Regions from separate parts of the Homo sapiens genome. Here region 1 is linked to region 2. The links come from fine-mapping of genetic effects on gene expression. A gene starts in region 2. The other region holds a variant in brackets. All regions are shown on one strand. Distances are from middle to middle. Region 1 has its middle 21 kb from the start of APBB1IP. Region 2 holds the start of APBB1IP (amyloid beta precursor protein binding family B member 1 interacting protein).

Region 1 (5,385 bases), 21 kb before region 2:
ACTACACTCCAGCCTGGGCGACAGAGCAGGACTGTCTCAAAATAACAATAATAATAATAAAATGAAATGTATTTATTTGCTATGTTCATTGGAAGAATATTGCATAGTGTCTGAAGATTGCTGCATGAGCAGAAATAGAGTGCAGAGTCTTTGAGGTCCCCAGAATGGGACAATGACATGCTCATCGAGGTCTTCTCTAAGCATGTTGGCCTCACTGCCTGGTCCTGGGCACAATTCACAAGTGAAGGCACCACTAGAGTGTGAAGGTCACATTGGCCTGAAGTTACTCACATCTGTTCCTGTTTACAGCTGTCAAAGCCATCTTGAATATGTTGCCATCTGCACACCAACCTTGTGATGAGGGCAGGAAGGCATTATGATTGGTGTCATTTTACAGTCCAGGTGCTGGTAAGACCATAAAGTGATCTTCTGACCTCTTTCTTCTCATGTTTCACAGTCTGATCTGGGTGTTTAAACTGACTACTTCACACTACCTCTCTTAGAAAAGGAAGAACCAATTTAGAACAATGTGCTTGGAGAAATGAAGACTCCCTACGTTCCCTCCGCTCTCTACCTCCCACACACCCACTAACCCCTACTACAGCTATGCCCCGGTGTCTTCAGGGAGCTCACCCAACAGGAGCAAGAGGACTTCTTTAAGCTGAGACTGCAAAGGTCAGAGACACCACTCAGCAAAGAGCCAGGAGGTGTGCATTCTAAGCAGCAAAGCGGTTCTCAATATTCAGGAAAAGACCAGATGTGGGGGCTCATGCCTGTAATCGAAGCACTCTGGGAGGCCAAGGCGGGAGGATCCCTTGAGGTCAGGAGTTTGAGGCTGCAGTGAGCTACAATGGCACCCCTGCACTCCAGCGTGGGTAACAGAGCAAGACTTGTCATTACATAAATAAATACTCAGGAAGAGAGAAGAAAATGCCAGTATGGCTTGAATTTGGTTTGCTATGGGGAGAGAGAGCAACGAGATGAGGTTGGAGAGGTGGGGTTGGCGTCAGATCTTGTAAGTCTGGCAAGGAGTCCAAGTTTTATTCCAAGTACAAGAGCAAGTTTAAATTTAATGTAAGCAAGGAATGACAAATCTGACTTGTTTAGGGAGGCAGGACATACAGTGGTTAATAGTCCAAGCTCCAGAATCAGACGACCTAGATTTAAATATCATTTCTACCATTTATTACATGGGTGGGTGTAGGCATATTATTTAAAATCCACATGTCATGTTTCTCATTTATAAAAGAAAGATAGCAGCAATAATAGCCCAGCATAGGACTGTTTTAAAATGATTTATTTGCCAAGCGTGGTGACTTAATCCTCTCATCGCAGCACTTTGGGAGGCTGAGGTGGGAAGATGGCTTGAGCCCAGGAGTTTGAGATCTGCCTGGGCAACATAGGGGACCTTGTCTCTACAAAAGCATTGGTAAATGTTACTTGTCTATATTTTTAAAAACTAATGCATCCTACTGTGTGGAAAATGGATTGAGAGTGAGAGGGTAAGGAAAAAGACCAGCTGAGAAGTTATTGAAGTGGCCCGAGGAATAGTTCATGGGGCTTGGTCTAAGTAAGTGAGGATAGAGACAAAGAAAAGGATATATAATAAAGACATGCTAATTCATTAGATGAGGAAGAATAAATAACCAATGATGGTTCATGGGTTTTGGACTGAAGAGATGCCTTTTACTGAGATGAGAAAAACTAGGGGTAGAATTGGCTTAAGAAAAAAATCAAAAGTTCAGTTTTATCCATGTCATACCTCTTAAATACTCAAGTGGAAAGGTCAAGAAGGCAATTAGATAAAACCAAGTAAATGTAACTGTAGCTGGCTAGACTTCTTGTAGCAGAGAACAGGACTAGGCTCACCATGTGAAACTGGGTGAAGATAGAAAGTGTCAGGAAAAATTACAAAAGACTTCGAAATGGATAAAAAAGATTAGTGGGTGTCCTGTCTAGCTTTACCATCCTGGTTATCTCCAGAGGCTTTGCAACTCTCAAAGACAGTAAATTCTGAAAAACCGGTAATAGTGCCAATGATTCTTGCTCACAAAAGTGCAATTGACTTGTGTCTGGTGAAATGTAATGGATTATGGTATTGGAGATAGACCAGTTTTTTAAATCTGTTTGTAAATTCATTTCAACATTTCTTTATGCATATAAACATGTGCTTCTTTGAAACAACTGTAACATCTTACCGGTTCCCTCATTAGTTAATGAATTAAATAAAATATTTGACAAGCATGGATTTTATATTTGTATGAGAATTGTAGTTGATCATTTTAAAAATTTATCTGTTAACAAGGACATTTTCCAATGAAAAGAAGATGAAGGGGAAAAAAGTGCTTCAACCAAACACTACTTAGAGCTGTGGACTGTACGTAACTTAATAACCCAAGGAGGAAGAAGCCATCAAAAATATCATAGAGCCTGGACCTATAACTAGTTAGCCTCTGGCTTTGAACCTAGACCTCTTCATGGAAGGGGTTGTGAATAGCATCTCTCTTCCCCACCTGAGTTCTGAATATATTGAACAAAAGACAAGTGAATGATTATTGGAAGCCAAAATATCACCTTCTTAATCATAAAAGCTAGACTAGAGACAGGGTGTGTAGCTCTGTATGAGAGCCAGCTGGGCTTTCTATCACTGAACTCTAGAATTAGACCAACTCACCCAAGCCACAGCAGTGCTAAACCAGGAAAATCCGCTCAACAAATGATGCTTGGACAACAGAATAAATGCATGAAAATAGATTGAATCTCAACCCCTACCTCACACAACTCATAAAAATTAATTCAGGATTGATCTTAGGCATAAATTTAAACTATACCTAAAACTATAAAACTTCTAGAAGAAAGCAAAAGAAAATCTTTGTGATCCTGGAGCCAGCAAAGATTTTATAGGTAGGACACACACAAAAAACAATCATAAAAGAAACAAATGGATAAATTGAACTTCATCAAAATTAAAAACATGATCAAAGGGGAAAAACCTTCAGTAAATTGTACACTTAAAAAAGATGCATTTCTCAGTATGTAAATAAAGAAACTAAAAATTTTCTATTAAGAAAAATGTTTATTGTAAAAATGAAAAACATCATAATTCACAAAGTTAATGTTCACAGAAGGAAAATAAATAATAATCAACAATATTTGCTGTTATTTGCAGAGCCACAC[T/A]ATTATGTCATAAATTTACAATACAAATCTGCTAATATCTTCTTCTACAAGCCTCTCATTAAAATAGAAATTTATTTCATTTTATTTATTTATTTATTTATTTATTTTTTCAGATGGAGCCTCACTCTGTTATCCAGGCTGGAGTGCAGTGGTGCGATCTCAGCTCACTGCAACCTCTGCCTTCTGGGTTCAAGCAATTCTCCTGCCTCAGCCTCCCCAGTAGCTAGGATTACAACCGTGTGCCACTAAGTCCAGCTAATTTTTGTATTTTCAGTAGAGATGGGGTTTTGCCATTTTGGCCAGGTGGGTCTTGAACTCCTGACCTTAGGTGATCCACCCACCTCAGCCTCCCAAAGTACTGGGATTATAGGCGTGAGCCACCGCGTCTGGCTGAAATAGAGATTTATTTTAAAATGCAGGAATTTTCTCAAACTAGTTTTCTTTCATTTCTAAGAAAGATAAGAAAAATAGTTTAAGGTAATGAAAAATCATAATTTTTTTATTATACTTTAAGTTTTAGGGTACATGTGCACAACATGCAGGTTTGTTACATATGTATACATGTGCCATGTTGGTGTGCTGCACCTATTAACTCGTCATTTACATTAGGTATACCTCCTAATGTTATTCCTCCTCCCTTCCCCCTCCCCCACGACAGGCCCCAGTGTGTGATGTTCCCCTTCCCGTGTCCAAGTGTTCTCATTGTTCAATTCCCACCTATGAGTGAGAACATGCGGTGTTTGGCTTTTTGTCCTTGTGATAGTTTGCTGAGAATGATGGTTTCCAGCTTCATCCATGTCCCTACAAAGGACATGAACTCATCATTTTTTATGGCTGCATAGTATTCCATGCTGTATATGTGCCACATTTTCTTAATCCAGTCTATCATTGTTGGACATTTGCGTTGGTTCCAAGTCTTTGCTATTGTGAATAGTGCCGCAATAACCATACGTGTCATGTGTCTTTATAGCAGCATGATTTATAATCCTTTGGATATACACCCAGTAATGGGATGGCTGGGTCAAATGGTATTTCTAGTTCTAGATCCCTGAGGAATCGCCACACTGACTTCCACAATGGCTGAACTAGTTTACAGTCCCACCAACAGTGTAAAAGTGTTCCTATTTCTCCACATCCTCTCCAGCACCTGTTGTTTCCTGACTTTTTAATGATCACCATTCTAACTGGTGTGAGATGATATCTCATTGTGGTTTTGATTTGCATTTCTCTGATGGCCAGTGATGATGAGCATTTTTTCATGTATCTTTTGGCTGCATAAATGTCTTCTTTTGAGAAGTGTCTGTTCATATCCTTCACCCACTTTTTGATGAGGTAGTTTGTTTTTTTCTTGTAAATTTGTTTGAGTTCTTTGTAGATTCTGGATATTAGCCCTTTGTCAGATGAGTAGATTGCAAAAATTTTTTCCCATTCTGTAGGTTGCCTGTTCACTCTGATGGTAGTTTCTTTTGCTGTGCAGAAGCTCTTTAGTTTAATTAGATCCAATTTGTCAATTTTGGCTTTTGTTGCCATTGCTTTTGGTGTTTTAGACATGAAGTCCTTGCCCATGCCTATGTCCTGAATGGTAATGCCTAGGTTTTCTTCTAGGGTTTTTATGGTTTTAGGTCTAACATTTAAGTCTTTAATCCATCCTGAATTAATTTTAGTGTAAGGTGTAAGTAAGGGATCCAGTTTCAGCTTTCTACGTATGGTTAGCCAGTTTCCCAGCATCATTTATTAAATAGGGAATCCTTTTCCCATTTCTTGTTTAAACACTTTTATTGAAGAAGACCTGCCAATAACGTGAAGTGCCTTAGGGAACTAGTTTATATTTACCTTATATTCAACTGGACAGTGTTTGTGGCCAACATTTAAAAATGACTCTGTGCCCATTAAAAGCTATCAAATATTAATCTGTGGTTCTAAATTAGTGAACAGACCTAATACTCAGGAGGCTGAGGCAGGAGGATTGTTTGAGTCCAGGCATTCAAGAACAGCTCAGGCAGCTTAGTGAGACCCCCATCTCAATTAAAAAATAAACAAATAAGTAAATAAAAATCAAATATGAAACAGGGTTAAGATTGCAGCATTGCAATACATTCTCATGCACATTTCTTTCTTACTTTAATCAAACTATTACAATCTTGACATACACACATACAGAAAATTATTTAAATTGGAACTGGTAGAAACTCTCCTATTCCTGATGGA
Region 2 (5,385 bases):
CTTCAATCAATTGATTTTCTGAACAATCACCAACTGGCAGGATGGCTTATCGCTTAAGTCAAATCATGCACTCAGTTGCTAAATACATTCCAATAGTCCCCCATTGCAATTAGAATAAAACCTAAAGTCCTCAATGCTGGCTACAAGGTCCTGCTTGTTCTGGTTCCTGCTTACCTCTCTGTCCCCATCCACTATTGCTGCCCTACTCTTTCAGAACATTCCAGGCACACTGGCCTGCCTTCTTTTGAACTTTCTATGTTCCTATCTCAGCCCCTCTTCTTGTTCTTCCTTCTCTTGGAATCCTTTCCCAAGTTTCTGAATGGCTGCCCCTTCTCATTACTTTGTAAAGAGGTGATCCTTGACCACTTTCCCTGCCCCAAGAAAGTCACTCTCATTGTTTGATTTTATATTTTATGTAGCACTTACAACTCTGCTCAGAACCTTCCACTGGCTTTCCATCTCACTCACATCAAATTCTCTTCCACAGCTCCCAAATAGCACACAATCTGGGCACCATTTCCTTTTGATCCCATCTCATGTCTGTCCCTCCCATCTCACTCTGCTCAGCCGTACTAATTTCCTTGGTGTTTTTCCAATATCTTAAGTGCTCTCCTAACTCAGGGTCTTTGAATGTGCTGTTCCTTTTGCCTGGAATATTCCCATCTAAAAACCCAGTGTGGATTAATCTCTCATGCCATTTAGATCTAGCTCAAGTGTCACTTATCAGACAGAAATACCAGTTTCAGGTGTTTCTGTCTATTGGGAGACTGCCTTTCCCTGGTGCTATATTAAAAAAAATTAGGATAAATAAATAATAAATAAATAAATGAAAAATACATTTTCTCTTCCTTATGATTTTATTAATAACAGTTTCTTTTCTCTGGCTTACTTTATTATAAAAATACAGTATTTAATATATATAAAATAATATGAGTTAATCGACTATGTTATCAGTAAGGCTGATAACAACTGCTTGATCATCACCTGATGGTCACCTGACATTCCTGGTAGGGGGTGGGAGGAGCCCTCTCCTGCCCTGCTCATGCCTGACTAGCTACCTACTGTAACAGAACAATGCCAGATTTCAGGAGTACCAAACTGCTGCACAATTGAAAATCCATGTATGTCTTTTGACTCCCCCAAAACTTAACCACGAATAGCCTACTGTTGACCAGAAGCCTTACTGATAATATTAAACAGTCAATTAACACATATTATGTTATATGTATTTAGATAAATACTGTATTTTTACAATAAAGAAAGCTAGAGAAAAGAAACTGTTATTAAGAAAATCATGAGGAGAAAATATATTTTCTATTTATTTATCGTTTATTTACCCTAATTAATACAGCAACCCCATCCCCATGCCCATCACTCTCTATCCCTCACCTTTTAACTTCCTTCAAAACTAGTTACATTCCTTGACATGTTAAATATTAATTTGTTTATTGTCTGCTTTCTACCAACTAGAATGCACCATGCATGAGAGCAGAAATTGTTTCCTCTAACTATTTTCATTGTTCTTAGAAGTGTTGGTGCTTACGAATAGTTTCTCATTAAATAAATGACAGAACTATTTGAAATTGCCTAATTAACACATGCACCTAATTTCTGTCTTTATGTCTTCACCACCTTCCCTGACATATAAGCCTTTGAAGACACAGCTGTAGAGGAGAAGGGGAGGGTTATTCAACCGCATTTACAAATCATAACTGATTTTAACTTCTGTATTTTCAGACCTCCCCAGCGACTTTCTCTCAGGAAACTCCACTCCCAACTGACAGGTGCTATTTCCAGCCAGTCCTATGCTGTTGCAAATAGTGAGTCCATGAATGCCCTCTGCCGTGTGCATTACTTATTTTCATCAGCAGATCTTCGTAACACACTCCTGGAAGTGGGATGACGGGGTCAAAAGGCGAATCCATACATAAGTTAAATAGATATTGCTCAATTCTCTTCCACGGGGTTCAGACCATTTTGGATTTCTACGAGCAATGAAGACAGTGCTATTCCTCTACACCCTGGCCGGCCAACTGAGCGTGGTTAAACGTGGGGAGGGAGGAGGGTGAGGTTACCAACCTGATGGTTGAGAAAGGGCCTCCGCCCAGCGCGCCCTTCCTCCACCCCCACCCGAGAGACAGCTGAACTCCGGCCGGGACGCGCGTGTTGCCAGTCCAGCCCTGCACCGCGTCCCCTGAGGGCGGGCTGCAGGCGGCCGGGAAGCCTTGCACAACCGGCCCAAAAGAGGAAGCCCAGAAAGTGCTGAAGTAAACACTTTGGGAGACCGTTGCAACATAAAGCGGCCTCTCAGTCTTTGGTGGAACCATCACTAGGCCCCAATCCCTTAGTCCCTCTTGCGTCGAGGCTGCAAAATGGTTCCATTCGCCAGGAGACGCTCCTGAGAGAAGGGCGCGCGCGGCACAGGTAGGGGGAGGCGCAACGTTTCCCAGAATTAAAATAAAATAAAATAAAATAAAATAAAAATCCCTTCAAGGTGGTTGTGTAGTAGGGGTGGGATGGGGGAGAGAAAATCAGGCGCAGACTCGATGAGTTGGAGAAAGCAGCCCCTAACTCGGAGTCCTTTACGCATATGTTTGTCTGTCCCACTGTCTCTAACCAGGGGCCTTCCTTGCACCTCGGAGCAAAGCAGCTCGGATAGCGCCACACGTCTGCGCGCTGCGTGGGAAGGGCAGGGCTGACAGCACTTCCTCCCCGGGGCAGCGACCTGGAGCCCGGGTGCGGCAGTCTGCACCGCGCGTCGCTTTCCCGGCCGGAGTCTCGCCGCCTTCCCGCGCCCCGCAGCGCCCCGCAGAGCAGTCGAGGTAAGTGGCGCTCCCAGTCCCGGGAGCCCTGGGAGCGCCAGCACGGGCCCCTCGGGGCTGTCAGGAACCCGTTTGTCAAGCCCGTCGGGTCCGACGCCGGGGGCAGCTCCAGGATCTGGCCTCGTGAACGCGTGCCCCCAGGCGTGGCCCTCGAGCGCAGCGGGTCCCCAGGGTCCCCTCCGCTGATCTCCACTCTGGACCCGGCTCGCGAGGGTGGGGGTGTGAGGGTTTGGGGTTCGGGTTTGCTTTTTCCCGAGCTATTGCAACAGATTTGACAGATTTCCTGCCCAGGAAATTGCTGCAAGGTCAAACGGGGAACTGCTATGAACCCTTGCACGTCCAGCAGGTCAGCAGGTCAGCAGGTCAGCAGGTCCGGGAGCCCCAGTCTCCCGGAACCTGGAGGGATTCTTGAGGGGCCAAGATTAGATGTGGATTAAATGCCAGCCGTGTGAGAATTTGAGTGTGGCTCGCAGTCTGATGCATCTTAGAGTGTTTCCTTCCTCTAAAACTTTTGGACAACTCTTTCCTCTTTTTAAAAATAACTTTTTCCCCCGAATATTCTCATTTTCATTTTAAAATACCATAAAGATAGATTTGGACACCAGGCACAAGTTTCATAATTTGGCTTGAAATGAATATCCAGAGGGCCTTTTACAGAATGGAGGAAACTAACTAGGGTGTCCTAATGTCTCCAAGAACCTCTGCGCAGGTGTTCCACCAAAGACCTAGCCCGGTGTACCTCTTACTTTCCTGCTAAGGTATTTCTTAGTTCATACCCCTGTGGAACGTGAAATGTGTTTCCTAGACACTCAGGGCATAGCGGTTCAAAAGAACTTTTAATGTGATCCTTGACGAGACGGAGTACTAGAGGAAAGTAACAAAAGAAAAGGGCCCGTGAGTTTATTATGCCCCCAGATGTTTTTTTCTGGTGGCATAACGTGGTTTAAACAAAGGTGCCGGTACTAGCTACTATTCATTTTAAAATCTGGGTCTCCAGAGAGAAATTTCAGAAAGGAAAACTTTGTCCTTTTTCATAAACCTAGAGCAGCGATTTTCCCTCTGGCCTCACTGGAATAATGGGTGGCACATGGGCCAGGACGATGATGCTGGCTGGCGAAATTAGCAAGGATCTGCTGAGAAATACTTTATAAAGTCTTCTAGTGGTATTTCCTGTCTGCTCAACGTGTGTTGTGAAAGGTCTAAGAAATTTAACTTCATCCTTAAACTATTAATAATGTGTGTCCTTAAACTATTAATCCTTAAACTATTAATAATTACTAATATTTGGGTTTTTTCTCAGCACTTGGGAGACCTGGGTTCTGGCTCTTATATCTCCCCCATCTAGATAAGGATGATATTGATTAACTTGCATAACTTCTCCCTGGACTTCAGATAACGTCAGTAAAGTGAGATGATTGGGCTACATTATGTCTGTTCTTAAAATAGCAATTGAGGAGTTGCTATAATTCTTTGAATTGGTCCCAACTGGAATACTGGCAACATTATATCAACATTAGAATTGCTGATCACAAATTTTTTAAAAATGGAGAAAATAATCATAACCATAACAGATTACATTCTGAAATATCAATATCTTTGAGGTCTTTTGTTTCTGAGAAGTTCCTGTAAAAGCGCAGTCAATATCTGGCCTATATGTAAAAAGGCAAATTTCCATCTTATTTGAAAACTGAGATAAGAAACAGCCCAAACTTGAACAGGTCAATATTATATTTTGAAATCTTTAAATTGCTATTTCTCAAGAAATATAACTTTGTAATATGAATTACTTTATGGCATTACTTTAAATCTTAAACACAATACTAGGTTTTATAGTATTTATTACATTTTTTGTATTTTTATATCCTAAGAATGTTCACCAGTTATCCACTATTGATTTGCCTTTTTTCACTCATCAATCAAAGTTTTAAATAGTTCCATATTATTATTAGAATGAGCTACTTATAAAGTTCATTGCCATAAATGTCTGTTTGATATGTCACTTTGAATTTTCTTTAAGCCATCTTACTTCCAAAGAGCATTATTATTTTCATTTTCTTCTAATTCTCTTCAATTTTATTTTAATTATTTTTATGCCTAAAACATTTTAGTGAGTCCACAAATCTTATAATAAATTGTCTGCGTTCCATAGCCTATTGGACCACAATCTTTACAATTTTATAGGACCCCATGAGTTTATATTATGGAGACTACGGTGATCTTAGGAATGCTTGCCTCAAAACAGAACAATTTTTATTAACACAACAGGTATCTTCTCAGTATGAAAATGAATGTGTGTGTTTTATGTCACTGCTGTCATCTAAGAGGCAAGTCACTTAAAGCTTAAGCATTTATTATAAATTCATGTACATAATAAATGCCAGATTTTAAAGTGTAAGATTTCTACACTGGTTGCATGGGGATTTTAAAATACATATTACACTTTTAATTATCGTGAGAAACATGACTTTTAGAGAAAACTGCTAGATATCTGGAACAGTAATCATTAGATTTCTCTTGAAAAGAGAGAACTAGCCGCATGAAGGAATGCCATTACACCTATACC

What was found. PIP is the estimated chance that this variant, and not a neighbour inherited with it, causes the effect.
Region 1: its variant is fine-mapped to the expression of APBB1IP in whole blood (TOPMed, PIP above 0.99).

What each region holds. Positions count from the first base shown.
Region 1 is chr10:26,415,140-26,420,524 of GRCh38, forward strand. No RefSeq gene overlaps it. Among named protein-coding and RNA genes, the nearest start is that of APBB1IP, 21 kb to the right of the region's middle. The variant T/A (reference allele first, on the strand shown) is at 3,178.
Region 2 is chr10:26,436,032-26,441,416 of GRCh38, forward strand. It overlaps APBB1IP (amyloid beta precursor protein binding family B member 1 interacting protein), which reads left to right and starts at 2,310. Exons shown (of 15, transcript NM_019043.4): 1 at 2,310-2,424; 2 at 2,621-2,822. RefSeq lists enhancers at 1,627-2,156, 1,874-2,003, 2,564-2,643.